Linked DNA regions of Homo sapiens. The protein of the gene in region 4 interacts with the protein of the main gene of each other region in a biochemical or structural test. Each region holds a gene or a part of one and is shown on either strand. Other genes may lie near its edges.

Evidence for each region.
Region 1: the proteins of RNF4 (region 4) and TCF20 form a complex in vitro, tested with the Homo sapiens proteins (one study listed by BioGRID).
Region 2: the proteins of RNF4 (region 4) and UBE2W form a complex in vitro, tested with the Homo sapiens proteins (2 studies listed by BioGRID).
Region 3: the proteins of RNF4 (region 4) and SP1 form a complex in vitro, tested with the Homo sapiens proteins (2 studies listed by BioGRID, with this or other methods).

The regions. Positions count from the first base shown.
Region 1 is NC_000022.11:42,204,642-42,211,668, forward strand, and holds part of TCF20 (transcription factor 20), read right to left. Parts: coding exon 5,010-7,027; intron 1-5,009. UniProt on the Homo sapiens protein: Transcriptional activator that binds to the regulatory region of MMP3 and thereby controls stromelysin expression. It stimulates the activity of various transcriptional activators such as JUN, SP1, PAX6 and ETS1, suggesting a function as a coactivator.
Region 2 is NC_000008.11:73,868,857-73,875,883, forward strand, and holds part of UBE2W (ubiquitin-conjugating enzyme E2 W), read right to left. Parts: intron 1,446-7,027; coding exon of another isoform or gene 1,413-1,445; intron 1-1,412. UniProt on the Homo sapiens protein: Accepts ubiquitin from the E1 complex and catalyzes its covalent attachment to other proteins.
Region 3 is NC_000012.12:53,383,163-53,390,189, reverse strand, and holds part of SP1 (transcription factor Sp1), read right to left. Parts: coding exon 6,568-7,027; intron 1-6,567. UniProt on the Homo sapiens protein: Transcription factor that can activate or repress transcription in response to physiological and pathological stimuli.
Region 4 is NC_000004.12:2,493,079-2,500,105, reverse strand, and holds part of RNF4 (E3 ubiquitin-protein ligase RNF4), read right to left. Parts: intron 3,100-7,027; coding exon 2,985-3,099; intron 1-2,984. UniProt on the Homo sapiens protein: E3 ubiquitin-protein ligase which binds polysumoylated chains covalently attached to proteins and mediates 'Lys-6'-, 'Lys-11'-, 'Lys-48'- and 'Lys-63'-linked polyubiquitination of those substrates and their subsequent targeting to the proteasome for degradation.

The DNA.
Region 1 (7,027 bases), on a different chromosome or scaffold from region 4:
TGAGATCAGCCTGGCCAACATGGTGAAACCCTGTCTCTATTAAAAATACAAAAATTAGCCAGGTGTGGTGGTGCATGACTGCAGTCCCAGTTACTTGGGAGGCTGAGGCAGGAGAGTCACTTGAACCCACGAGGAGGTGGTTGCAGTGAGCCAAGATTGTGCCACTGCACTCCAGCCTGGCAACAGAGCAAGACTCATCTCAAAATAAAAATAAAAATAGAAAATAAAAATTAACCTAAAACCAGTTAACATATACTGTCAGGTAAAAAAAAAAGATTAAAAGTTTCCCAAGGGGGGTTGGAAAAATTTGGGAGGGGCACCTTCTATGAGAGGGGAACAAGCAAAGACTCCCCGACTCCCCCACTAGTAGGGCTATCCAGCCTCAAGGGATCCATGGCCACCAGATCTACCTTCTGTCACATCCCTGCACGCCTTGGCATTCCTTAATGTCTCAAAGGTGATTTGTACATACCAAGTTATATCCATACCCATTCAGAGGCAATTACCTCTGTAATATCATTCATGTCAGAGGTCATTGTGATTCTCATACACAATTATACCAAGGCAAACAGTGGTCAATGTTGGACAGAAGCAAAGGGGACTTGTGCTGAAATGAATAGATTCACAAGTCCCACACTTGTGGGAAGGGAAAAAGGAAGGGAAAAAGGAAGGGAAGTAAACACCATTTTTAAATATAGAAATGTTCTAGTTTTCGGCAATTTTCAGAGTAGTGTGACACAGGGAGAGGAGCAATGTCTCTTGAGGACTTCCCAATATTTTAATATAACATCGTGCTTGTCAAAACACCTGATAAATACATAGGCCAAAATGGATCTCTAATGAAATATATGTGACTTTATCTTACATGATAGGATTAAGGGCATGCTCATTAAGCAAGACCAAAACTGAATGCATCTATCTGCTAAAACCTAGTAAGATAAAACTAGACTCAAAGTATCCTGGACAATTGAAACATCATCTGTCAAATTAAATAAAAGGCAAGTTAGTGTAATTTTAATTTGTCCTTGAGTGCACTGAGAAAAGTAGAATAAAAGCTAGGTAAATAAAAGCTAGAAACGGATCTTATAGTGATAGTGGTACATCAGCTCAAAGAGACAACAAGCCTAACTTTTTTCTTATTTTTTTTAGAGATTGAATCCCACTCAGTCGCCCAGGCTAGAGTGCAGTGGCACCATCTTGGCTCACTGCAACCTCCGTCTCCTAGGCTCAAGCCATTCTCCTGCCTCAGCCTCCCGAGTAGCTGGGATTACAGGTGCCTGTCACCATGTCCAGCTAATTTTTGCATATTTTTAGTAGACACGGGGTTTGACCATGTTGGCCAGGCTGGTCTTGAACTCCTGACCTCAGGCGATCTGCCCACCTCGGCCTCCCAAAGTGCTGGGACTACAGGCGTGAGCCATCATGCTCGGCCCAAGACCTGAATTGAGACACAGGATCTAGAGATTTGCTGGGGAAGATTTAGCCTGATTACTGATTATCAATTATTGCTATAGAACACCTAAAAGTTTACACAAAAAAACTGGGCTGAGATATGTTAATAATAAATGTTGAAATAACGAAAACACTGTCAGATGGTCACATACACATATGCACATCAAAAAGCAATAAACAGGCTGGGCGCAGTGACCCACACCTGTAATCCCAACACTCTAGGAGGTCAAGGCAGATGGATGATCTGAGGTCAGGAGTTCCAGACCAGCCTGGCCAACATGGTGAAACCCCACAACAAAGTGAGATTCTGTCTCAAAAAACAAACAACAAAAAACCCACCAAATACTGTGACTTTCCAAGGAAAGTTGGGAAGCAAGAACTCAACTTTGACAAGAGGATGATTAACGGATTATTTTGAGCGCTCAAATTTGACTAAAGAATTTTGTACTTGAGGGTCTTAAATGTTACATCCTCCTAGGATCTTTGCATTTTAAAATGTCATTGTGTATAAACTTCTTAGGGGAAGTGAATCTTCTACCTCAAACTTGGAGTTTCACCGTGATGTTAATAATGGAGACAGGGAAGGAGGCACAAAGAAAAGACCGTAATTGGGAGATAGGGGACATGATAAGAGTAAAGGGCAAGCTCCTTGCATGACTGAATTAAAATGTTCTAATTTCAAATATATATTTCACATTCAATATAATTTTTACTATAGTCTATGGGCACTTCTTTTTGCCAGAAGGTTATAAATAATATGGTAGACTACTAAACATACAGTTGTACATCCATCTGATCCCTTCCCACGAAAAAGTGGATAAACTTGCAAGATAAACTCATGACACCATGAGCAATGGGAAGCTGGAAACATGAGAGATGAAGTGAGTGACAGTGATTCTGTGCACTGCAAGGAAGCAGACAGTAATGATGAGTGCAGTGGAGGAGCCCCCAGAAAGCCAGCCACTTTAGGGCACAGAGCTTGGGGAGGCCTCAGTAAGTGGGGGTGCAACATGGGGCTGAAAAATAGAGCATTAGCCCAAAGTTTCTAAGAGGAGTTAGATCCTTAACCCAGTTCAACCAGGTAACTGTTCTCATCCACTGAAAACAGGCGGGAGATTGTCAAAGTCCGCGCACTGAATCATGAGCCCATATCCCCACCCACACAACCCTACCATCCTCTTCTCCACTTGGCTTTTAGGACGCTGGCAGCCAAGCTTGCATCTCTAGACAGGAAATCTCAAGATTTTTCTCTGGAACAAAAAAAAAAATGTTTTTTTTTCCTCTGGGAAAACTCAACTCAGAAAAAAGACCCATATGCTGGCTGGCTGCCTTATTATTCTACGGAGAGGACTACAGGCTAGCAAGCCTGGCCCATACTGTAACAGAGAGCTTCAAGTCATTTTTTAAAACATCTCTTTCTCTCTTAAAAATATAAATCAAGGCTGGGTGCAGTGGCTCAAGCCTGTAATCCCAGCACTTTGGGAGGCCGAGGTGGGCGGATCACCTGAGGTCAGGAGCTCGAGACCAGACTGACCAACGTGGAGAAACCTCATGTCTTCTAAAAATACAAAATTAGCTGTGCATGGTGGCGCATGCCTCTAATCCCAGCTACTCAGGAGGCTGAGGCAAGAGAATCGCTTGAACCTGGGAAGCGGAGGTTGCGGTGAGCTGAGATTGCGCCATTGCACTCCAGCCTGGGCAACAAGAGCGAAACCCCATCTCAATAAAGAAAAAAAAATCAAGACATCTGAAGAACCTCTAACAAGAAAGAGAAAATAGGAAACAGACAAAGATTTTTAAAAATTATAGTACAGGCCAAGTGTAGTGGCTCACGCCTGTAATTCCAGCACTTTGGAAGGCTGACGTGGGAGGATTGCTTAAGCTCAGGTGGTGAGACCAGCCTGCCTGGGCAACAAAGTGAGATGCTGTCTCTACAAAAAGTAAAAAACTTAGCCAGGTGTACTGGCATGCACCTGTGGTCCAGCTACTTGGGAGGATCCCTTGAGCCCAGTGGTTGGAGGCTGCAGTGAGCCATCATCACATCACTGCACTCCAGCCTGGGTAAGGGCATGAAACTGAAACAAAAACAAAAACAAAAAATACGTTATAATGTATTCAAAAAGCAAGAGAAACGATTATAGCCATCAACTAGGCTCTGATTATTCTTTAAAAGTCAGTACATTCAGAGAAAAAAAAAGCTCTTCAAAATATCAAGAAAAAAAATAAGTAAATAAAAGGCTAGAAGGCTGGGCACTGTGGCTTGTGGCACATGCCTATAATCCTGGTACTTTAGAAGACCGAAGTGGAAGGATTGCTTGAGTCCAGCAGTTTGAGACCACTCTGGGCAACACAGTGAGACCTTGTTTCTGCAAAAAATATAAATATTAGCTGGGCATGGTGGCACACACCTTTAGTCCCAGGTACCAGGGAGCCCCAGAGTTCGAGAATGCAGTAAGCTGTGATCGCACCACTGCATTCCAGCCTGAGTGACAACAAAACAAAACAAAACAAAACAAAACCAAAACAAAACCCACATACAAAAAAGATTAGATGATAAAGCTGAAGAAAGCATAGAGAAATCAGAACAAAAAGATAATGAGATAAAACATAAAACAGAGGAGAAAAGATAAAAACAGCGGATCAATCCAGGAGGTAAAATGCCTTATATTAACAGGAATTATAAAGAGAGCAGAGAAAATAGAGGGAAGGAAATTTTCAAAGAACTACCACATGACAAATTGCCTGAACTGAAAGACATCAGCGTACATAAGATCTCATAGAGTAGCCAACACAACCATGAAATGACCTAGTCAAGACCTATCATTTTGACATCTCAAGACCCTAGGGAAAAGGAGAAGATCCTCAAACTTTCCAGAAGAAAAACAGAACATGCATCAAGGGATGAAAAATTAGAATGGCAGTCTTCTCAACTGCAGCACTGGAAGCTAGTGGACAAACCAGGAAGAACGACTGCAAGACAGTGAGAGAAAAATCACTTCCAATCTAGAATTCCACACCTAGCCAACTCTCAATTAAGCATGAGGCTAGGATAAAGTCATGCTCAGATATATAGGATCTCAACATTTTTACACTCCCACACACCCTTTCTCACAAAACTACTAAAGGATGATGCACGCCCTTAAATGAAGGCTCACTTTAAGAATGAGGAAGAAATGGGATTCAGGAAACAGAACATTCAATAGAGGAGAGAAAGAAATGAAGATGATGATGTTGATGATCTGCCCCAGGATAAGTTATGAAACAGATCCAAAGAATAAATATCCTAACTGGAAAGTGTGCGTTAGAAAAGATGTGGCCCAAGAAACTTGAAATATAATAATATGCTTCATAAGCATTATACATTTCAAAAAATGAAAAACGATTTTAGAAGTCTATACAAATCTTCCAAATTACCTATTTCATTTTCTGTCCATCACATGGGCATAGGCACTTTAATTTGGAGGAATAATCATGTGACATGTAAGAACAAAAACATGCAAGAAAAGGAACCAAATGAAATAAAAATCCCAAGCTGGTAAGAGATTTCTCATACTCACCATCTCTCTGGCTATTTCCAGCGCTTCCTGCAGGCCATAGAGCCTGCCACAAACCAGGTAGATTCCATTGGCCCAGAGAATACAACCCTCATGGACCCAAAATTCATTGCTGTCAAGAGGTAGTTCAGGGATTTGTAACTCCAGCTCAGGGCCACCTTCTGAAGTGGTGGGCACGGAGGGCTTCGAGTCCAAAACAGTCTTTTCACTGCTGCCCTCAGTGGCTGCTTTTTTACAAGGGAGCCCCCTGGACAGGGACCGAGGGCCTCCACCACAGTCTTCCGAGCGGTGGCGCCGCTTAAACCTGGGGTGTGCGGCCAGGCTTCTCTGCTCCTTCTGCTGCTGCTGCTGCTCTTCCTCCTCCTCAGTGTCCGTCTTGGAGCCATTAGAAGCACTTTTGTGCCGTACCTTAACTTTGCTCTGCATTTCTGTGGCCCTCTTAGGAGGTGGATTCTTCGGGAGAGTGGCTGCATAATCTTGGGGATAAAAAGGTCCAAAGAGGTCACCCATGTTCCGGTAACTGGCCCACTTGCCACACAGACAGCAAACCAGGTGCCCCATAACCGAAGACTCTGTCACAACAGGTCCCTGCAGCATAAAGGACGAGGCCGGGAGCGCCTTGCTTTCAGTGCTGCTAGGTGGAGGGGTCAGTGACCTCTGACCCTTCCTGCCCCTCACTAATTTGGTCTGTTCTTCTTCCTCAGCATTGATGATTGTACAAACGGCTCCAAGTTCACACTTATTTACTACATGGATGTAAGGGTAAAAAGACTTGTTCTTGGCATCAGTTTTATCCAGTGGCTGGGTGGCATATTTTAGTTTGATCTCAGGTTCTTGGGGTTCCACAATGGGAACTGCTTGTTTGGTTTTTCGCTTCCTCGGCTGGGCCCCAGGCTTCCTTCTCTCCCTCCTTTGCCTCTGTTTTTTTGGCTTTGGCTCTCCATCTGCAGAACCTTCTGGTATCTGTGGGGGCTGAGGGGGTGGAGGCGGTGGCTGCTGCTGTTTCTTTTGCTTATTCACACTACCAATGGGTCTCCCCTTCTTCTTTCCTGATGGGAAATATCCCTTTGGAGGGAAACCCTCTTGCTTCGGTGAAATCGTCACTGTATCGTTCTCCTTCTCTTCAGCCTTGGGGTTTGCCTCAGGGGCCAATATGCCCACTGGAGGTACATTCTTTGAGTCTGGAAAGATTAAAGGTGCTGTTCCACCCAGGGAACCATCTGGTCTCCCTTGGTTACTACCAGGCTTCTGTGAGGTTGTGGATGTCATGGCACCAGGGGGTTCCTTTCCGGCAGTAACTGTTTCTGCATGTGTCTCTGTCTTCACTTTGTCATCCACGCTGCCACGCCACTCTTCTGAAGACCTTGGAAGAGGTTTCTCTACGTGCAACTCCTGGTTTGCTGGACTGACTAGGTCCGAAGCCACCTCACCTTTTCTCTTCTCTATGTCAGCATCCTGAACAGCAACACTCCCACCTTCAGGAGGACCACTCTTCAAAGACAGTATATCATCAAGCGTAACCGTGTCTCCCCCAGCCTCCGCACTGTTCGAAGATGCGCTCCTCCTAATATTTGGGGATGTAATCTTCTGAACTATAGCTTCCAATTTCAATCCCCGTCCTTTCCGTGGGGGCAGTATTTTGGTCTTAGCAGGGCTTGTGAGGGTAACAGCAGGGCAGTTTCTACTATCTGGACTTGGAAGGTCCTTGGAGGAATCTCTCTTAGGGATAGACTTGATATCCTGACTGTGAGAAAGATGGGCATAGGAATTGAATGCTTTATCAGCGCCTTCTTTTGATGAGTGAAGGAGGCGACCTTTATCTTCAGTGCTACTGTTCTTTACATCTTGTGACTGTCTCTTACTGGGAATGGGAGAGATAAAAGAACGAACACGCCTCCTCATGATTAAGGGGTTTTGAGAAGAATGATCCTCCTGGCCTGGAAGTCTCAGCATAACACTACCAGGTTTGGATGACTGTGTAGCCTCAGCTAGTCCATGTCCATCAGTCTCATGGGGCGGCC
Region 2 (7,027 bases), on a different chromosome or scaffold from region 4:
GGTCCTCCTACATGCAAGGTATATTAACAAAAACAAATTAAAACACAAGCCTACATAAAAACTTGTACATACATGTTCACAGCATTATTCATACTAAAAAGGGGAAACAATCCAAACTGTCAATTAATCCATTGATGAATGAAAACAGGAAACACAAATATCTGATATTTAAATAACTGGTGAATGGATAAACTGCAGTACAACCAAAAAATGGGCCATTACTTGGCTACGAAAAGGAATAAGTATTCATACAAGCTACAACATGGATGAACCTCAGAAACATTATGAACTGGGCATGGTGGCTCAGGCCAGTCATCGCAACACTTTGGGAAGCCTAGGCAGGAGGGGTGCTGAGACTGGGAGTTTCAAGATCAGCCTCGGCAACACAGTGAATCTGTCTATATAAAAGCTTTTTTTAAGGCCGGGCACAGTGGCTCATGCCTGTAATCCCAGCACTTTGTGAGGCCGAGGCGGGCGGATCACAAGGTCTAGGAGTTCAAGACCAGCCTGGCCAACATGGTTAAACCCCGTCTCTACAAAAATACAAAAATTAGCTGGGCACAGTGGCTCACACCTGTAATCCCAGCACTTTAAGAGGCCAAGACAGGTGGATCTCTTGAGGTCAGAAGTAAGAGACCAGATTGGCCAACATGGTGAAACCCCGTCTCTACTAAAAATACAAAAATTAGCTGGGTGTGGTGGCGCACGCCTGCAGTCCCAGCTACTCGGGAGGCTGAAGCAGAAGAATTGCTTGAACCTGGGAGACGGAGGTTGCAATGAGCCGAGATGGTGCCACTGCACTCCAGTCTGGGAGACTGAGCAAGACTCTTGTCTCAGGGAAAAAAAAAACTACAAAAATTAGCTGGGTATGGTGGTGCATGCCTGTAGTACCAGCTATTACGGAGGCTGAGGCAGGAGGATCACTTGAACCCAGGAGGCAGAGGTTGCAGTGAGCCTATTGTGCCACTGCACTCCAGCCTGGGTGACAAAATGAGACCCTGTCTCACCTGTCTCAAACAAACAGCTAAGTGAAAGAAGCCAGGCACAAAAGGTCATATATAATATAATTCCACTCTCACAAAATACCCAGAATAGACCAATCCAGAGACAAAAAATAGATGAGTGGTTTCCAGACACTGGGGAAAGGGGGAAATAGGGAGTGACTGCTAATGGATAAGGAGTTTCTTTCTGGGGTGATGAAAATGTTCTGCAAACAGCAGTGATGGTTCTGAACAGATTAAAAACCACTGAACTGTATACTTTAAAAGGGTAAGTTTTATATGTGGATTATATTTCAATTAGAAGAAAAAATTGTGCATTAAAAGGATGTCAAAATGGACTTTAATAGCTCACAATTTTATTTGACTAATTCTCAAGTTTTGAAGAGGATTGGCAAAAAAACACACACTTACTGGAAACCATACTTCCACCCTCCTTCCTGTGGTCTGAAAATACAAAGAAAGACCTCATGTAACACATGGTCATAAAGGAAATCTATTTTTTCCATTGATAGCTAGTGCAGGGACTAGAAATCAGAAAAAAAAAAAAGACAAAAGCATCTAGTAGAGCTAGCTTAAAATGGGAAACATAGCATTAAAAGATAATTCACCAATTCCAAAGATCCAGGAAATGAAATAACCTGTTTTTATCATCCCTATTTTATATTTGGAGGTGGGAGGTTACACAGCTATTAAACAACAACACTAGAATTCAAACCCAAGGTTATCTGATTCCAAAAGCTGTGCTCACTTATTCATTTATTCGACATTTACTGAACTCTCCTACATGTCAGGCACTAGGTTACATCCAAGAAAATAGAAAATAAGCTAATTAATACATAGCCAAAGGTATGAAGAATTTATCAAGGTAAAGGAAATTATTAGCGCTGGGATGGGAGAGCTATTTTATATTGGGTAGTCAGGAAGGGCTCTCTTAAAAAAAAAATATTTGAACAAAGCTATGAGTGAAAAGAAAAAAAAAAAAAAAAAAAGGAAGCCATCCAGATCATCCAGATGTGTGAGAAGAGCATTCCAAATAGAGAAAACAACAAGCAGGAGTAGCAAGGAGGACAATAAGGCTACAGAGACATGAGTACCTGGGAGAGGTTAAGACCTCCTAGGCTATAACATGGATTTTGGATTATATTCTGAGGAAGAGAGGGAAGTCATAGTAGGATTATGAATGAAATGACATGACTTTTGTTTAGAAAGAATCTATTGGGAATCTAAAGAGATAAGTAAACGGATGAGGGCAGAAGTAGGAAAACCAGTATGACACTGCTAATATAATCCAGGCAAGAAATGAGGATGTCATCTGTATTTACATCAGGAATTCAGAAAATCAGTTGAATTCTGGATATATTTTGAAAGCAGAGCAGATAGAAATTTGCTAATGGTTTGACTGTAGGGTGGAATGAACCCAAGGTTTCTGGCTGAGCAAATGGAATGAAGTTGCCTATATACCAACATGGGGAGTACTACAGAAAACAAGTTTGGGTAAGATAAATACAAAATGCAGTTTTATATGTTTATCTATCTGCTAATCTGTTTTTGTCTACCCACTACACTCCATAATGATTTCTGTGCAATATAGCTTTTTAAAAAGTAGTGAAACAGGACCTGAATTTGGGTCTTTTCATTACAGAGCCTGTGTTCTTTATCTCTAATGAAGTTTTACAAAAGCAGCTAAATGAAAGTAGAGTATTTTCTTAGAATAAAACAACTCAAAAGCATGCGCTGTTTTTTGGTGATCCAAGAACTACATTCACAAATAAAGGCTTTCAAATGAGGACACTTTAATACCTGACAAACATGAACAAGTATTTTGCAGATACTACTCATAATGAAGCAGACAGCAATAATATAAAGATGGAATAAAATTCATCTAACAAATGCTTAATTTAGGTAAATACTAAGGAGAACTATATTTTCAGAGAGATGCCAGATCATCCCTTTATTTTTTATTTTTATATATACTTTTTGAGACAGGGTCTCACTCTGTCACCCACGCTGGAGTGCAGCGGCACTTTATTTTTTATTTTTATATAAATTTTTTGAGACAGGGTCTCACTCTGTCACCCATGCTGGAGTAGAGTGGCACAATCCTGGCTCACTGTAGCCTCGAACTCCCTGAGCTCAGGTGATCCTCCCACCTCAGCCCCCCAAGTAGCTGGGACCACAGGAATGTGCTACCACACCCAGCTAATTTTTGTCCCACGCTGGGATCATCCCACCTTAAAAACTCTCCTTGATAATGAAGATTATCTTTGAAGGCCAGGCGCGGTGGCCAGCCTTGAAGGATAATCTGATATTACTTTCTGCTTTAGATTTCCTGCTTCATTAAGGCAGGAAAAAATACTTTCCCTCTATCCCTTAAATGTGCACACAGTGACTACCGTAAATATTTGTCCATTACTTAACACTTCAAAAAGCATTCCTAAATAGCTAATTCTGCATTAGTTTAATTCTATTTTAGGTCAGTCTATTAAGCAGTTCTACAATAGTAAGGTTCAGTACCTATAAAGGAATAATTTAAAATTCATATTTATATAATATACCAAAAAAGTGGCTTATTTTCTTGCTGCATGCGTTTGCCATAACTGTAATGTTCTTCATAGTATCTTCATATTCTTTATAAAAAAGGAAGTCAACTAACCTAATTTCATTCTAATAGAGACATAGCAGTAACTGCTGGTAAGTATGTACTTATTTGGAAAGTGACTTACTCAAAATTACACAGTAACTGAGTAGTGAAACTAAGCTCTGAAATCTGTTGATGCTGTGAAGGTGTAAGTAATGAACACAGTTTGGCATCACAGAGAAATCATTGGTGTAATTATGTAACTTTTCAGTCAAGAATTAAGCATTTACTAAACTACTTTATAGTTTTTATAGCTAAAGAAAAGAAGAAATATTCCTGAGTTTATAACACAAGGTTACTTTATGTATCATATTTTAAAAAGAAGTTCTCATGTGTATACTTGTGTACTGAGTAAAATTATAATTGTAAATTTTTACTGTTCAAAGATAATCCTTTTTTTTTTTCCTTTTTTTTTTTTTTGTTTTAGCTGGAGTCTCACTCTGTCGCCCAGGCTGGAGTCCAGTGGCATGATCTCCGCTCACTGCAAGGCGCCTCCGCCTCCTGGGCCCAAGGGATTCTCCTGCCTCAGCCTCTCAAATAACTGGGATTACAGATGCGCTCTACCACGCCTGGCTAATTTTTTTTGTATTTTTAGTAGAGACTAGGTTTCACCATGTTGGCCGGGCTGGTCTCGATCTCCTGACCTCAGGTGATCCACTCACCTCAGCCTCCCAAAGTGCTGGGATTACAGGCTTGAGCCACCATGCTGGCCTATTTTCTAACTTTTAATTATGTTGTAACCCTTCCATACTGACATCAACAAACAGACGTCGTATCTAACTGTCAAGGCAACATGACTACTACAACAGTAATGTCTGTAAGAGTCCATGTTCCATCTCTCTCAATCACTATAGCCAATTACTTGAGCAAAGAGCAGTGGGCTGGGGGCAATGGCTCATCCTGTAATAATCCCAGCACTTTAGGAGGCCAAGGTGGGCCGATGGCTGAGTCCTGGAGTTCAAGGCCAACTTGAGCAACAGGGAAAAAACCCATCTCTACAAAAAATAAAAAAATTAGCCAGGCATGGTGGCGTGTCTATAGTCCCAGCTGCTTGGGAGTCTGAAGTGGGAGGATCACCCGAGCCTGGGAGGACAAGGGTGCAGTGAGCCAAGACCACGTCACTGCACTCTAGCCTGGGTGACAGAGTGAGACCCTGTCTCAGAGAGAAAAAATTTTAAAAGCTGTGAATAATCCAAAATAATGCATTATTTCTAAGTCTGAAAATAAGCACACATTCATACTTTATCTCCTGTTATTAAATCTCAACCTCCTTCCATCCCTACAAATTGACAGTTAACAGTCTAAGACCCAGCTAGGTAAGAGAGGAAGTAAATGCAGAAATTTCACAAGGGTAATTCAACTGACCATTTCTCTCAATTATATCACTGTTTTTAGAGTTGACAAACATCAACTACTATGCACTGACTTTCTAAGATCTTAAGACACAACGTAACAGGAGGTTTTATCTAAAATTAACAATTCTAGAATGTCAAATTAGAAAATTAGACAGCATATATGTTAAAATTGCTAACTTACGAGAAGTCTGAATGAAGCAGTTAAATTCTAAAATCAGAAATTATATCCAGGAGGTCAAGTACTTCATAACATTAAATAATACATAGGAAAGAAAAAAGGTTATAAAATTTAAAAACACGGCCGGGCGCGGTGGCTGACGCCTGTAATCCCAGCACTTTGGGAGGCCGAGGCGGGCGGATCACGAGGTCAGGAGATGGAGACCATCCTGGCTAACACAGTGAAACCCCGTCTCTACTAAAAATACAAAAAATAAGCCGGGCGAGGTGGCAGGCGCCTGTAGTCCCAGCTACGCGGGAGACTGAGGCAGGAGAACGGCATGAAGCCCGGGGATTGGAGCCTGCAGTGAGCCGAGATCGCACCACTGCACTCCAGCCTGGGCGACAGCGAGACTCTGTCTCAAAAAAATAAAATAAAATAAAATTTTAAAAAAGCATTTAACAACAACAACAAAAAATTCAATTTTAGGATTCACCTGAGAAAAGAATACCTCAATACTGCTACACTTTCAAAAATGTTTAGAATCACATAAAAATTCACTTCAATAAAAGAATGCTTCTGCAGTTTGGGGATAAAAGTTTCTACCAAATAATCAGTCCCTAAAACGCTAAAACTAAAAATTTGCTACAAGAAACTTTTCATGTAATATTTAAAGATTTTTAGAATTACCAAAATTAAATGTAGATCTGTTTAACTCCTATCAATTTTAGGTATCACCACAAATATAACATTCTCTTAATGATGGTTTCTTAAGACTGGGCACATAGGCTCACGCCTGTAATGCCAGGATTTGGGGAGGCCAAGGCAGGTGACTGCTTGAGCCCAGGAGTTCCAGACCAGCCTGGGCAACATAGTGAAACCTGTCTCTACAAAATACAAAAACCTGTAGTCACAGCTACTCAGGAGGCTGAGATGGAAAAGATCACTTGAGCCCAGGGAGGTTGAAACTGCAGCAAGCCGAGACAGCGCCACTGCACTCCAGCCTGGGTGACACAGTGAGACCCTGTCTCCAAAAAAGAAAAGGTTTCTTAAAACATAATTTAACTGTAATCTTACTTGGTGATACATTACTTTTTTCTAGGAAGAAACAATAGGAAGGAAAAGAAAAAAAGAAAATGAGTAAAGAATGTCTCAAAGGGATCACATAAGTCTGAAAACCACTATCTTGAATTGTATATGGCAGAACTCTAGCAATATTAGGGAGTAGAGCGTCCCCAGCATTTACAGGTGTGCCAGAATATTGATCTCCCATCCCGGGAGTTTCATGAGGTGCTGCCTGCCAGGTGCTTCTAGCCTCCCAATCTCATCTACTTTAGTGTACTATTCAAAACTTACTTTCTATGTGGGCAGAACCTAAAAGATGGTTGAGACGCACTGACAGAATACATTAAAGCAGTTACTAGCTCAACTTTAAAATACATACTCTCCAATAAGAAATTCAAAGTCTACCCTTACTTGTTTTACTCATTACCAAGTAATGAAATCCCATGTTACATTTGTATAATATGGCATTTTAAAAAAAATACAGTTCCTCTTAGAGCTTAAGTAACTTCAGCAGCAGCAGCAACATCCTGGTGTGGGTTAGATAAATCTACTAAAAGCTTTTTGGGTTAAGGACATGGTCATTCCATGTTACAGCTTATTTTTTCCTAATCGAAATCCCCAAATGATCAATTTCCTAGTCTTCTTCCATGCTTTTTCTCCACTGCACTATCACCTTCTAATATAATAACACACTTGGCCGCGTGCAGTGGCTCACACCTGTAATCCTAGTACTTTGGGAGGCCGAGGCGAGTGGATCGCCTGAGGTCAGGAGTTCAAGACCAGCCTGGCCAACATGGCAAAACCCAGTCTC
Region 3 (7,027 bases), on a different chromosome or scaffold from region 4:
TCTTAAAATAGAAAATTCTTTCATATGACCTTTTGCACAAAAATGATAACTGGTAAGACATTTAAATCATCTAAACCTACTTTTCATTAATGTCCAAATGTACTGCTCTAAAACACAACTTTTTAACAAATTAGCTCTCAGCAATCTGACTCCAAGTTTAGTGACACCCTTGGCAAACCAACCCTGGTATCACATTCAACTTAACTTCTAAGAGAAGACATTTTCCTGACCCCAATAAAACCCAGCAGATGTGAAATTGTTATTTTTAGTACCTGAAATTTGGTTTGTGAATGAATTATACCCATCAAGGAAATATGTTCTATTCTCCTGCCAAAGCCCAGCCCTGCACTCTTTATTAGACAGAACTCACAAGAAGTCATCCAAACTTAAATCTTTAAAAGCCAACTCCCCGTCAACCTGCGGCAAGAGTTTCAGGATTCAGCAGCGGCTAAGAAAAACATCTGAGGCTTTAAATGAAAAGTAAAATAAAATAAAATAAAGATCTGGGAAAATATGACTACAAAATGAAAGGAAAAGCTGTTGATAAAAGAGGGAGGGGTGTCAATTTAAAAAAAAAGAAACATCACGCCTGTAATCCCAGCATTTTGGGAGGCCAGGAGATCGAGACCATCCTGGCCAACATGGTGAAACCCAGTCTCTACTAAAAATGCAAAAATTAGCGGCTGGGCACAGTGGCTCATGCCTATAATCCCAGCACTTTGGGAGGCCGAGGCAGGCAGATCACCTGAGGTCAGGAGTTCAAGACCAGCCTGGCCAACATGGTGAAACTCAATCTCGATTAAAAATACAAAAATTAGCCAGGCGTGGTGGTGGGCATTACTCGGGAGGCTGAGGCAGGAGAATTGCTTGAACCCAGGAGGCAAAGGTTGCAGTGAGCCGAGACCACACCATTGGACTCCACCCTGGGCAACAAGAATGAAACTCCGTCTCCCAAAAAAAAAAAAAAAAAAAAGATCATTTTAAAAAATAATGAATGTAAACAGACTAAGTGAACACCATGGAAGCTGCAATCTTCCACAATCATGTAATATATCTCATTTTGTACAGTGATATATACATGTATCATACAACATTTCACATCCAATGTTCTTTCTACATCGTACCAAGAAGTTGAACATACTGCAAAAAGGTTAAATTTTACAGTAAAATAACTATCAGAGAAGGGGGTAAAATTAGATACTTTTTTTTTTTGACAGGGACTCACCCTACTGCCCAGGCTGGAGTGCTGTGGCGTGATCATGGCTCACTGCGTCCTCAACCTCCCGGGCTCAGGCAATCCTCCCACCTCAGCCTCCCAAGTAGCTGGGACTATAGGCGTGTGCTACCATGCTCAGGTAATTTTCATATTTTTTGTAGAGATGGGGGATCCCTATGTTGCCCAGGCTGGTCTTGAACTCCTGAGCTCAAGAGATCTGCCTGCCTTGGCCTCCCAAAGTGCTGGGATTACAGGCATGAGCCACTACGCCTGGCCAAAACAAGATACTTTTGCCAGCAGGAAGGCAAAAGCTGAAAAAGGAGTAAGCCTCTAGGAAGTGATTTTATTATCTTTCTTTAAGGATGAAGTCATATCAATTAAAGGGGAAATACTACACAATTATTACTAGCCAGAAAGGAGAAAACTTGGATCTTCAAAAACCCCTATTAATGAAGCAAACAATCTCAACTCTTACAAAACAGCCTGTCAATGCCTCATTATCTCCTTAGTGAATGTCAAGCTCCTCTTACCTTACAGAAACACACACGCATTTTCTTCAGCTCAAACACCATCAGTAACAACTAGGTAGCCCTAGTCTATGACATATTAAATGGCAGACTTCCCCAGAGCATGATTTAGCAATGAGAATGCCTCATAACTGTTCTCTAAACCCTAAGTTATAAGCCTTTTAGAAATTGCAAGGATCCAAATTATTAACAGGAATAATCCCACAGTTTGCTCTGAAGAAGAGCAAAACCGGGCACTTCAATCTAAGAGCAAATAGAAAATAAACATGATGGTGTAGGTTGCCCAGAAGTGTCTAATTTTCTACGTTGTAGAGGTCAGTTTTTATAAAACTTTTCCCATTTCTATTCCCATAAATGTTTAGTTTATAAAACATTTTTATAAATGTTTTATAAACATCTGTCAGTTTTAGAGCATTAAATCTTAAATCAAAAACACCTTTTCGAATACATTTTTTTTTTTTGAGACGGAGTCTCGCTCTGTCACCCAGGCTGGAGTGCAGTGGCACAATCTCAGCTCACTGCACGCTCTGCCTCCCAGGTTCACATCATTCTCCTGCCTCAGCCTCCCTAGTAGCTGAGATTACAGGCACCCACCACCACGCCCAGCTAATTTTTTTGTATTTTTAGTAGAGATGCGGTTTCACCATGTTAGCCAGGATGGTCTTGATCTCCTGACCTCATGATCCGCCTGTCTCAGTCTCCCAAAGTGCTGGGATTACAGGCGTGAGCCACCAGGCTGGCTCGAATACATTTTTAACAATCTAAAGAATTGTTCAAGTCCCTAGTTAAAACAGGTTGCACCCTAGACTAGTAAAACTAGCCTCAGCTCTGGCTGTTGTCTCATTAAGTGATTCTCTGTACCTCAATTTCCTCATCTAGAAAATAAGGCAGTTGTACTAAATAACTTCAGTCCCTTCCAGCTCTAACTTTCAATTCTAAGATTTCAATTAACTAAGAAAATTACTGTCTTGTTAAAGCTCAACATGTAGTATTTCTAAACACACCACAGGAATGTAAGAAATCAGGGAACTTAAGCAGACTTTCCCCCTAGATTTACCAAAACTGCAGGAGGCAGGAAATATGGTTGCCTATTTGCTACCCTCACTTATGTAAGAATCAGTTAAATGGAATGAGAACTTGGTAACAAAAGTAAACAATTTATAAACCCACATATATATGCCAAAAGAACTAGAAGTGGCCAGGCGCAGTGGCTCACGCCTGTAATCCCAGCACTTTGGGAGGCCAAGGCGGGCGGATCACGAGGTCAGGAGTTCGAGACCAGCCTGACCAGCACAGTGAAATCCAATCGCTACTAAAAAAATACAAAAAATTAATGGGCATGGTGGGACGTGCCTGTAATCCCAGCTACTCGGGAGGCTGAGGCAGAAGAATTGCTTGAACCCGGAAGGCAGAGGTTGCAGTGAGCCAAGATCGCACCACTGCACTCCAGCCTGGGAGACAAGCTAGAGTCAGTCCCAAAAAAGAAAACGAAAAAAAAAAAAAAAACAAACCTAGAAGTTGGGTGATATTATTTGGTGATATTAAACTATTTTCCGTATTTGTATAATTGTGCCAGCATATAAAGATGTATGTGTATCCTTTTATTGTGCTTTATTAAAGATTAGCTCCATACAATGGAATTTAAAATGATAAAGTCAGGCCGGGCATAGTGGCTCACACCTGTAATCCCAGCAGTTTGGGAGGCCAAGGCAGGCAGATCACTTGAGGTCAGGAGTTCGAGACCAGCCTGGTCAACACAGTGAAACCCCGTCTCCATTAAACAAACAATTAGGCGGGCATGGTGGCACACGCCTGTAATCCCAGCTACCTGGGAGGCTGAGGCAGGAGAATCACTGGAACTCAGGAAGGGGAGGTTGCAGTGAGCGGAGATTGCACCACTCCACTCACTACAGCCTGGGCAACAGAGCAAGACTCAGTCTCAAAAATGAAAAAAAAAAAAAAAAAAAGATACAGTCTACATAGACTTACATCTGTTTACTGTTTTAAATTTCAAATTAATAGTGAAACATTTAGTTCAAAATGAAAGACCCTGAACATTATGGTCAACAGATTCAATATTCTTCCCAGACTGTTTTTCCCTTCAATGCTCTCCTCATTCCTAACTCTTCTCAATCCTACATCCCCCACTCCATTCCAGACCCCAACTTACCCCACTCCCTTTCCTTCTCCCTTCCTAACCACACACAGTACTTTCAAAGCAGTCTAGGAAGTTAGACTGCTACCTAGAAGTATCAGAATCACCTAGGATGCTCATATGTTAGTGTGAAGGGAAGCTATGGGATTTTGTTTTTCAGATAACTAGGAGTTAAAAAAAAATTCAATCCTGATTAACCAGCACACTCAGAGTGTGGGATATTCTGGTTAATACTAACCAGGGAACTTACTTCGTTGAAAAGCAACCCGTTAGATCATTTTCCCTTCAATTAGGAGTTACAGTTCACAAGAAATATCTGATGATTTAATCTGTGTTCTACAAACAGGTAAAATTCATAATCAATTTTTTTTTTTTTTTTGAGACGGAGTCTCACTCTGTCACCCAGGCTGGAGTGCAGTGGCACGATCTTGGCTCGCTCCAAGCTCTGCCTCCCAGGTTCAAGCGATTCTCCTGCCTCAGCCTCCCAAGTAGCTGGGACTACAGGCTTGTACCACCACGCCCGGCTAATTTTTGTATTTTTAGTAGAGACGGGGTTTCACCATATTGGTCAGGCTGGTCTTGAACTCCTGACCTCATGATCTGTTCACCTCGGCCTCCCAAAGTGCTGGGATTATAGGCGTGAGCCACCGCGCCCAGCCCATAATCAAATTTATTTTTATTTATTTTTTTTTTTTTTGAGACGGAGTCTCGCTCTGTCACCCAGGCTGGAGTGCAGTGGCGCGATCTCGGCTCATTGCAACCTCCGCCTCCCTGGTTCAAGTGATTCTCCTGCCTCAGGCTCCTGAGTCGCTGGGACTACAGGTGCGCGCCACCATGCCCAGCTAATTTTTTGTATTTTTAGTAGAGACAGGGTTTCACAGTGTTAGCCAGGATGGTCTCGATCTCTTGACCTTGTGATCCACCCGCCTCGGCCTCCCAAAGTGCTGGAATTACAGGCGTGAGCCACCGCGCCCGGCCGCCTTTTATTTTTATTTTTTGAGACAGGGTCTTGCTCTGTCAACCAGGCTGGAGTGCAGTGATGTGATCTCGGCTCACTGCAGCCTCTGCCTCCCAGGTTCAAGCAATTCTTGGCCTCAGCCTCCTGAGTAGCTGGGACTACAGGCGCGCATCACCATGCCTGGCTAATTTTTTTATTTTTAGTAGAGAAGGGGTTTCGCCATGCTGGCCACGCTGGTCTTGAACTCCTGACCTCAGGTGACCCACCCACCTCAGCCTCCCAAAGTGCTGGGATTACAGGCGTGAGCCACCGTGCCCAGCCACCCGACTAATTTTTGTATTTTTTTTTTTTTTCAGAGTCTCACTCTGTTGCCCAGGCTGGAGTGCAGTGGTGCAATCTTGGCTCACTGCAACCTCTGCCTCCCAGATTCAAGCAATTCTCATGCCTTAGCCTCCCGAGTAGCTGGGCCCATAGGCATGTACCACCACACCCGGCCAATTTTTGTATTTTTGTCGAAGACAGGGTTTCGCCATGTTGCCCCAGCCGGTCTTGAACTCCTGAACTCAACCCATCCACCTGCCTCGTCTTCTCAGTGCCTGCATTACAGGCGTGAGCCACCACACCCGGCCCATAATCAATTTTTATCCTATGGAGGAGTTGGCCTACAGGCCAAAGAAGGCCTTAGAGCTAAGAATGGTTTTACATTTTTAAAGGGGTGTGGAAAAAAAACATACAAAACAGAAAATGTGGCTGGGTGCAGTGGCTCACACCTATAATCCCAGCACTTTGGGAGGCCGAGGCAGGTGGATTCACATGAGGTCAGGAGTTCGAGACCAGCCTGGCCAACATAGCAAAACCTTGTCTCTACTAAAAATACAAAGATTAGCTGGGCGTGGTGGTGCTCGCCTGCAATCCCAGCTACTCAAGAAGCCCAGGCAAGAGAATCGCTTGAACCCGGGAGGCAGAGGTTGCAGTGAGCCGAGATCACGCCACTGCACTCCAGCCTGGGTAACAGAGTAAGACTCCATCTCAAAAAAAAAAGAAAAAAGAAAAAAAAGAAAAGAAAGCCGGGCGCGGTGGCTCACGCCTGTAATCCCAGCACTTTGGGAGGCCGAGGCGGGCGGATCACGAGGTCAGGAGATCGAGACCATCCTAGCTCACATGGTGAAACCCCGTCTCTACTAAAAATACAAAAAATTACCCGGGCGTGGTGGCAGGCACCTGTAGTCCCAGCCACTCGGGAGGCTGAGGCAGGAGAATGGCGTGAACCTGGGAGGCGGAGCTTGCAGTGAGCCGAGATCGCGCCACTGCACTCCAGCCTGGATGACAGAGCAAGACTCTGTCTCAAAAAAAAAAAAAAGAAAAGAAAATGTGACCACATGAGGCCCACAATGTCTAAAATATTTACGTTACTATCTGGCCCTTTACAGAAAGCTTGTCAACCATTATTCTGCAGCACCAAAAACACTGAGTATTACAGACTCCAGAATATTGCCCAGAAGTGCTCCTTCCTCAAACTAACTGGAGAAGTTTCCTTTACTTCAGTTCCAAATTACTTAAACAGAATCTCTATTTCTCAAATTTATTTGCCTAAATGACTAACCCTCAAGAAAGTGTTATCTCAAAAGGCTCTATTCCTTTCTTTAGACTCAAGTTTCAGCTACGATGCTAGAGTTGGTTCCCAATAAATGCACAAGATTGGAAATCTTACCTGGGGCATTTGCTATAGCCAACGGCAGGCCTTGAATTGGGTGCACCTGGATTCCTGAAGTACCCAATGCACTGAGGTTAATGGTCTGGAGGCCTGGCATGGAGGAGAGTTGAGCAGCATTCACAGTGACTGTGCCAGCAGGAATGGAAGCAGCTGAGGCAATGGGTGTGAGAGTGGTGTTGCTGCTGCTGGTCTGCCCCAAGGAAACACCCTGCATTGGGGCTAAGGTGATTGTTTGGGCTTGTGGGTTCTGAACTTGGAGGTTCTGCAGCTGTAGAGTCTGCCAACTGACCTGTCCATTGGGCCCCACTGTTGGTGTCCGGATGATGATGGGACCAGAGTTTGGAACAGCCTGAAGCTGGAGGTTCTGGAGGGTTTCCTGGGAGATGGCTTGAGTTGTAAAGGTCTGCCCTGACAATGGTGCTGCTTGGAGGGCCTGGAGGGCCTGTCCCCCTTGAAC
Region 4 (7,027 bases):
GGCTCACTGCAACCTCCGCCTCCTGGGTTCAAGCAATTCTCTGTCTCAGCCTCCCGAGTAGTTGGGATTACAGGCGCCTGGCAGCATGCCTGGCTAATTTTGTTTGTATTTTTAGTAGAGATGGGGTTTCACCATCTTGGCCAGGCTGGTCTTGAACTCCTGACCTTGTGATCCACCCACTTCAGTCTTCCAAAGTGTTGGGATTACAGGCGTGAGCCACCGTGCCCGGCCAAGGACAAACTTTTAATTTCCATTTATCTCTCAAGTTTGTCTCCCTAGTTGGATGGAGAATAACAGTGATATATACTGATAGCTAGAACCTCAACATACAAAATGGGTTGCATCTGTTGTGAAGCTTGCCTTTCAGCCCTTAGGGTATACTGTGATGTCTACATGTGCACAGGATAAAGGTGAGAAGGACATGGACCAAACAGTTAACGTACAACTTCCATTTATATAAAGTAAAAAATGACGCACAACCATTTTTATTTCTGATTACTATTAATATTAATATTAAAAAGCACGGAATGGGCCAGGCACAGTGGTTCACACCTGTAATCCCAGCACTTTGGGAGGCTGAGGTGGGCGGATCACCTGAGGTTGAGAGTTCGAGACCAGCCTGACCAACATGGAGAAACTCCGTTTCTACTAAAAATACAAAATTAGCGAGGTGTGGTGGCACATGCCTGTAATCCCAGCTACTCGGGAGGCTGAGGCAGGAGAATTGCTTGAACCCCGGGATGCAAAGATCACGCCACTGCACCCCAGCCTGGGCAACAAGAGCAAAACTCCATCTCAAAAACAAACAAACAACAACAACAACAAAACACTAAATGAAGTTTTTTAAGAAACAGTATTGGTCTAATATTTGGGGAAAGTGTCTTGTAATGCATTTAACTTTTTTTTTTTGAGACAGAGTCTCGCTCTGTCGTCCAGGCAGGAGTGCAGTGGCACGATCTCGGCTCACTGCAACCTCTGCCTCCCAGGTGCAAGTGATTCTCCTGCATCAACCTCCCAAGTAGCTGGGATTACAGGCGCCCGCCACCACGCCCGTCTAATTTTTGCATTTTTAGTAGAGATGGGGTTTCGCCATGTTGGCCAGGCTGGTCTTGAACTCCTGACCTCAGGTGATCTGCACGCCTCGGCCTCCCAAAGTGCTGGGATTATAGGAGCCAGCCATGGCGCCCAACCCAACGTAACTTCTTTTATTTATTTTTTAGGTGGGGTCTTGCTGTTGCCCAGGCTAGAGTGCAGTGGCACGATCACGGCTCACTGCAGCCTCAATGTTCCAGGCTCAAGTGATCCTCCTACCTCAGCCTCCCACACTTGGCTAATTTTTTTATTTATAGAGACAGGGTCTCACTATGTTGTCCAGGCTGGTCTGGTACTCCTGGGCTCAAGCAATCTGGCTGGCCTGTTTTATTTTCTTGTATCATAAAGTTTCACAAGAATAAAAACCGTGATAATCTTACATATACAATATAATTTATATAAAATTATTGCATTCTTTATTAAAAAGAAGGGCTGTCCAACAGTCCATATACTGATATACAACAATTTATTGAACCATTCTCTTTCTGGTGAACACAATTCTGGGCTCTTACAAAAACAGTGCTCTAGGCCAGGCGGGTGGCTCAGGCCTGTAATCCCAGCACTTTGGGAGGCCAAGGCAGGTGGATAATCTGAGGTCAGGAGTTCGAGATCAGCCTGACTGACATGGTGAAACCCCGTCTCTACTAAAAATACAAAAAAAATTTAGCCGGGTGTGGTGGTGGGCGCCTATGATCCCAGCTACTTGGGAAGCTGAGGCAGGAGACTTGCTTAAACCTGGGAGGCAGAGGTTGCAGTGAGCCGAGATCACGCGATTGCACTCCAACCTGGCTGACAGAACGAAACTCTGCCTCAAACAGAAACAAAAACAAAACAGTGCTCTAATGGGCAGCCCTAAGTACACACAGGGGTAAGACTGCCTAGAGGATGACAAGTGCCATGACGGAAAGCAGTTCGTTCCTTTTTGGTCTAGAGCCAGGATCCTAGCCTCAAGTCAAGGCTTTCAAGAACTCATTTGTAGAAGTGAAACTCAGAGACCATATAGAGAACTTCATTTCTCCTGGGGGGCCCATGAAATTTATCTTGCACTAAGTTTCTTCTGTTTAAAACGCGAGTTTGCATGGCCGGGTGCAGTGGCTCACGCCTGTAATACCAGCACTTTGGGAGGCCGAGACGGGTGGATCACAAGGTCAGGAGATCGAGACCATCCTGGCTAACATGGTGAAACCCTGTCTCTATTAAAAATACAAAAAATTAGCCGGGTGTGGTGGCGGGTGCCTATAGTCCCAGCTACTTGGGAGGCTGAGGCAGGAGAATGGCGTGAACCCAGGATGTGGAGCTTGCAGTGAGCCGAGACTGCACCACTACACTCTAGCTTGGGCGACAGAGCAAGACTCTATCTCAAAAATAAATAAGTAAAAATAAAATGCCAGTTTGCAGGTATCCTAGTTATAAAAACAATATATGCAGAGCAAAGGGACTTAGGCCAGCCATCAACCACTTCTTGAGCAGGCAGAAGGGGAAATCCAATCTGGCCTCTGCCTATACCAAGCTCCAACACAGGGAGCTCTGTGGACAAGTTTGCCTTCTTGGGTGATTTCATGTCCTAATGAAAAACAGAAGAGGAAAGCGAAGTACTTTACAAGGTCCAGCAATTGGGGATGCAGTTTCAGATAGAAAAGGTGGGCTATCTCATTTGCGCTAGATTTTTTTTTAAATGGATCCTACCCCACTGCTGCACATTACCAGAGTTGAACAGTTAGCCCAGTTGAGAAGCTATTTCAGAATCTGTGAAGCTTTGAGTTGTACATGGTGAGTGTGAGACTGCATAGGCCTTCTAAAGACACTGAAAGCACCTTCTACTAGCTCACCCTGGTACAGTGTTCTCTCTCCACTTTAACACCCCACAGTTGTAGTGTCCCTGGCAATCTTACCAGTTTCCACGAGTTCTATGGGTTCTGCTTCCAAGGAGATCTCGGGGGTGGAGGTTGCTTCCCGAGTTCGCTTCTGAGCTTGTCTAGAATTTATTGCTCCACCACGACGCTTTCTCTGAGTAGCAAGGGGGAAAGAAGAGTCACATGAACACCAGAATGTCAGGGTTTCAGGAAGAACTAAATGGGCAATAGAAATGGTTCACTTCATTAAGAAGCCAGCGAGTAGACTTGAAGTTAGGGCTCCTTTCAAAACTTGAGATTCAAGAATACTGAATGCTTACGGAGAGAGAAACCATCCAAAACATAAAATGAGTAGAAATTCCAGAAAGTAAAACTTCTGTTTTATCAAACTATCAGCAGGTCGGCTGGGCATGGTGGCTCACACCTGTAATCCCAGCACTTTCGGAGGCTGAGGTGGGCGAATCATGAGGTGAGGAGTTCAAGGTCAGCCTGGCCAACATGGTGAAGCCTCATCACTACTGAAAATACAAAAGTTAGCTGGGCGTGGTGGCAGGCACCTGTAATCCCAGCTACTCCAGAGGCTGAGGCAGGAGAATCACTTGAACCTGGGAGGCAGAGGTTGCAGTGAGGCGAGATCGCGTCACTGTACTCTAGCCCGGGTGACAGTGTGAGACTCCATCTCAAAAAAACTATCAGCAGGTCAAAAGGGACACGATGCATCCCTTTACAAAAGCTTGAGGCCAAGTCAGGATTTGGACTTGGTAGTGGATGCCCTGGCCAAAAGGCTGGAAACTCTTCCCTTTAACCAAAAGTTATCAATTTCTCTTCCTTGACTTTGTGTTCAGCCTTTCTGAGCCCTTTTTGTTTCTTAGCATAAAGAACTTGGAGTTTTCTGAGTTTCTATACATTGTGGAAAGCTTATCTTCCCCTGGGAAATGTGGCCTTGAACCTTTCAGGGCACTATCAACTGTGATTCACACCAGACAATCACTCCCCACAAAGAACTCAAAGAACCAAAGCTGTTTTAAGCCTGTTCCCAGTGGCTACCCAAGAGCCATGTCTTCCGGAAAGTTCAGGCTCTCAGCTGGTTGATAAGCAACTGACACTCTGACCAGCCTTTCTTCCAAATCCTTAGGCTGCTGGTTTGCCAATATGCTCCAGCATTTCTGGTCTGCCTGGTCCCAAAAGACAAGCTGAGAATATCCTCCACCTTAATCAAGAGACAGAGCTGGCCAGGCGCAGTGGCTCAGGCCTGTAATCCCAGCACTTTGGGAGGCAGAGGCAGGCGGATCACCAGAGGTCAGGAGTTCAAGATCAGCCTGGGCAACACGGTGAAACCCGTCTCTACTAAAAATACAAAATTAGCTGGGCGTGGTGGCACATGCCTGTAATCCCAGCTACTCGGGAGGCTGAGGCAGGAGAATCACTTGAACCTGGGAGGTGGAGGATGCGGTGAGCCGAGATTGTGCCATTGCACTCCAGCCTGGGCAACAAGAGTAAATCTCCATCTCACCCCCCCCCAAAAAAAAAAGAGCTTCCCAACAGAGCCTGTCACCTTGTATTCCCACTGGTGTTTCCGTGCTCTTCTCCCTGTGCCCTGTCCTGCTATCCTTTGCACTGGACAACCTGGGACAAGTACTGCACTACTAAGTCTCAAGTTCCTCACCAGTACCAGCCTTGCAGAGCTGTTATAAGGTCTAAATGAGATCATGTATGTAAAGTACTGCGCAGAGACGGAAGATGCTACTACTATCCCAATTCCTTAGCCTTACTAGGGTCAATCTGTCCCAGGAAACTCTGAAAGGACCAGATATTGCAGGAGAGATTCATACAAGATCCAGGAACACCCACCATCCAGCCAAGCCCTCGCTAGGCAACAGGGATAAGCCTGATTCTGTGTTCCAATGCTACTCTTATCAAATGGCAGCTTGAGATGTTTTGGAAATGAAGCTGGGTCTAGTAACTTCCCACGGACTAAGGAGCACAGAACCAGCCCCAGGAGGGCCCAGAGGCCAAGCGACAGCAGCCAAAACTCCCAAGTGAGCAGCTGCTCTTGGCCTCAAGGGAGCTGACACTAACCTCAGTGGAGTTCTACTGCCCAGTGTTTTAAGGGTTTCCCCAGCAGCCACCAGGTTGCTTATGTAAAAAGTAAAGTAGAGGTTCCTCTTCAAAGACTTTCCTCCCCATCTAATTAGAAATAAATAGTAACTTCTCTTAAAAGCAAAATTTATTCAAAGACCTGTACTAACATTCTTAAATATCTGCTAGCCATAATAAAGAAATCAATGTACTTTATATTCTTAGCTCCCACAATTTAGCCTAAATATTTACCTTGGCATGCTTATATTAGTCCAAGCAAGCATTAGATCATAGCCTGTTCCTCTTCCTTATTTAAAGGTTATTTTTACCTTTTTCAGCATTCCACAAGTTACTTCCTCCTTCCTTTATTCTCCTCTGCCTTTGCCTCTTTTCAAAAGTTCTGGCCAGGTGTGGTGGCGCATGCCTGTAATCCCAGCACTTTGGGAGGCTGAGGCGGGCGGATCACAAGGTCAGAAGATCGAGACCATCCTGGCTAACACGTAGAAACCCCATCTCTACTAAAAAATACAAAAAAAATTAGCCAGGCGTGGTGGCGGGCACCTGTAGTCCCAGCTACTTGGGAGGCTGCGGCAGGAGAATGGTGTGAACCCGGGAGGTGGAGCTTGCAGTGACCCCGAGATCATGCCACTGCACTCCAGCCTGGGCGACAGAGTGAGACTCTGTCTCCAAAAAAAAAAAAAAAAAAAAGTTCTAAGTTGCTAGCCAATTGGGACAAATACAGAATGTGAGGTCCTGTTCCAGCCAATAAAAACTGGATACAGCAGCAGAGTAAACACATCAAGTTATAAATAACCCTGTCTCCTTTATTCAATGTATTCTCATGGCAAAACAACTGGTGAGTGTACCCTTTCTGCAGAAAGTATAAATATGGCCTTGCTAAAAAAAATTGAATTTACGTTCAAATGCTATTTCTTTACAGCACCAGAAAACAAGCATTTCAAACACTTAGGACTCTTTAATATTTACCCCATTCTCGTGGATCACGAGGTCAGGAGTTCAAGACCAGCCTGGCCAAGATGCTGAAACCCCGTCTCTACTAATAACACAAAAAGTAGCTGGGCGTGGTGGCATGCACCTGTAGTCCCAGCTACTCGGGAGGCTGAGGCAGGAGAATCGCTTGAACCCGGGCAGCAGAGGTTGCAGTGAGCCAATATTGCATCCACTGCACTCCAGCCTGGGCGACAGAGCAAGACTCTGTCTCAAAATAATAATAATAAATAAATGAAAATATTTACCCCATTCTCTTTGACAATGTCCTTTGTCCTCGTATAGGCTCCTTCCCTTGTAGCCAAGTCTTTTTTTTTTTTTTTTTTTTTTAAGACGGAGTCTCACTCTGTTGCTCAGGCAGGAGTGCAGTGGAATGATCTCGGCTCACCACAACTTCTGCCTCCCAGGTTCAAGCGATTCTCCTGCCTCAGCCTCCCGAGTAGCTGGGATTACAGGCACCCGCCACTGTGCTTAGCTAATTTTTTTGTATTTTTAGTGGAAACGGGGTTTCACCATGTTGGCCAGGCTGGTCTCGAACTCCTGACCTTGTGATCCACCATGCCCAGCCTGTAGCAGACCAAGTCTTTCTTACTAGGCACTGCTAAGCAGACCTCCATGTCCCACAGCTACCTGTGTGGTTTCTGGGCCCCACTGAGGGAGCCAAGAAAGCAGCCATGGGTCCTGGACCCAAAATCTCCCCTCACGGATAATTACAGGAATGTCCCCACCCCTCCCTAACCTCAGGAATCCTCTTTTCTGCCTGCTCTATCGACCCCTCCATGCCTTTAACCAGAGCTTCTTCCCTGCCTGGAGTGCCTGTCCCTCCCTTTCTTTACTTGGCCAATTCTTGCACAGCTTTCCAGAACCCACTCAAATGTCACCTCCTTCCTGAGGACATCCTTTACCCTCCCACTCTGCTGTCTCTGAGCCTCCTCCTCCCAAGTAGCTTCCCTGCACCACTCAAGACAGGCTCAATCAATCCAGGAATATCTGCA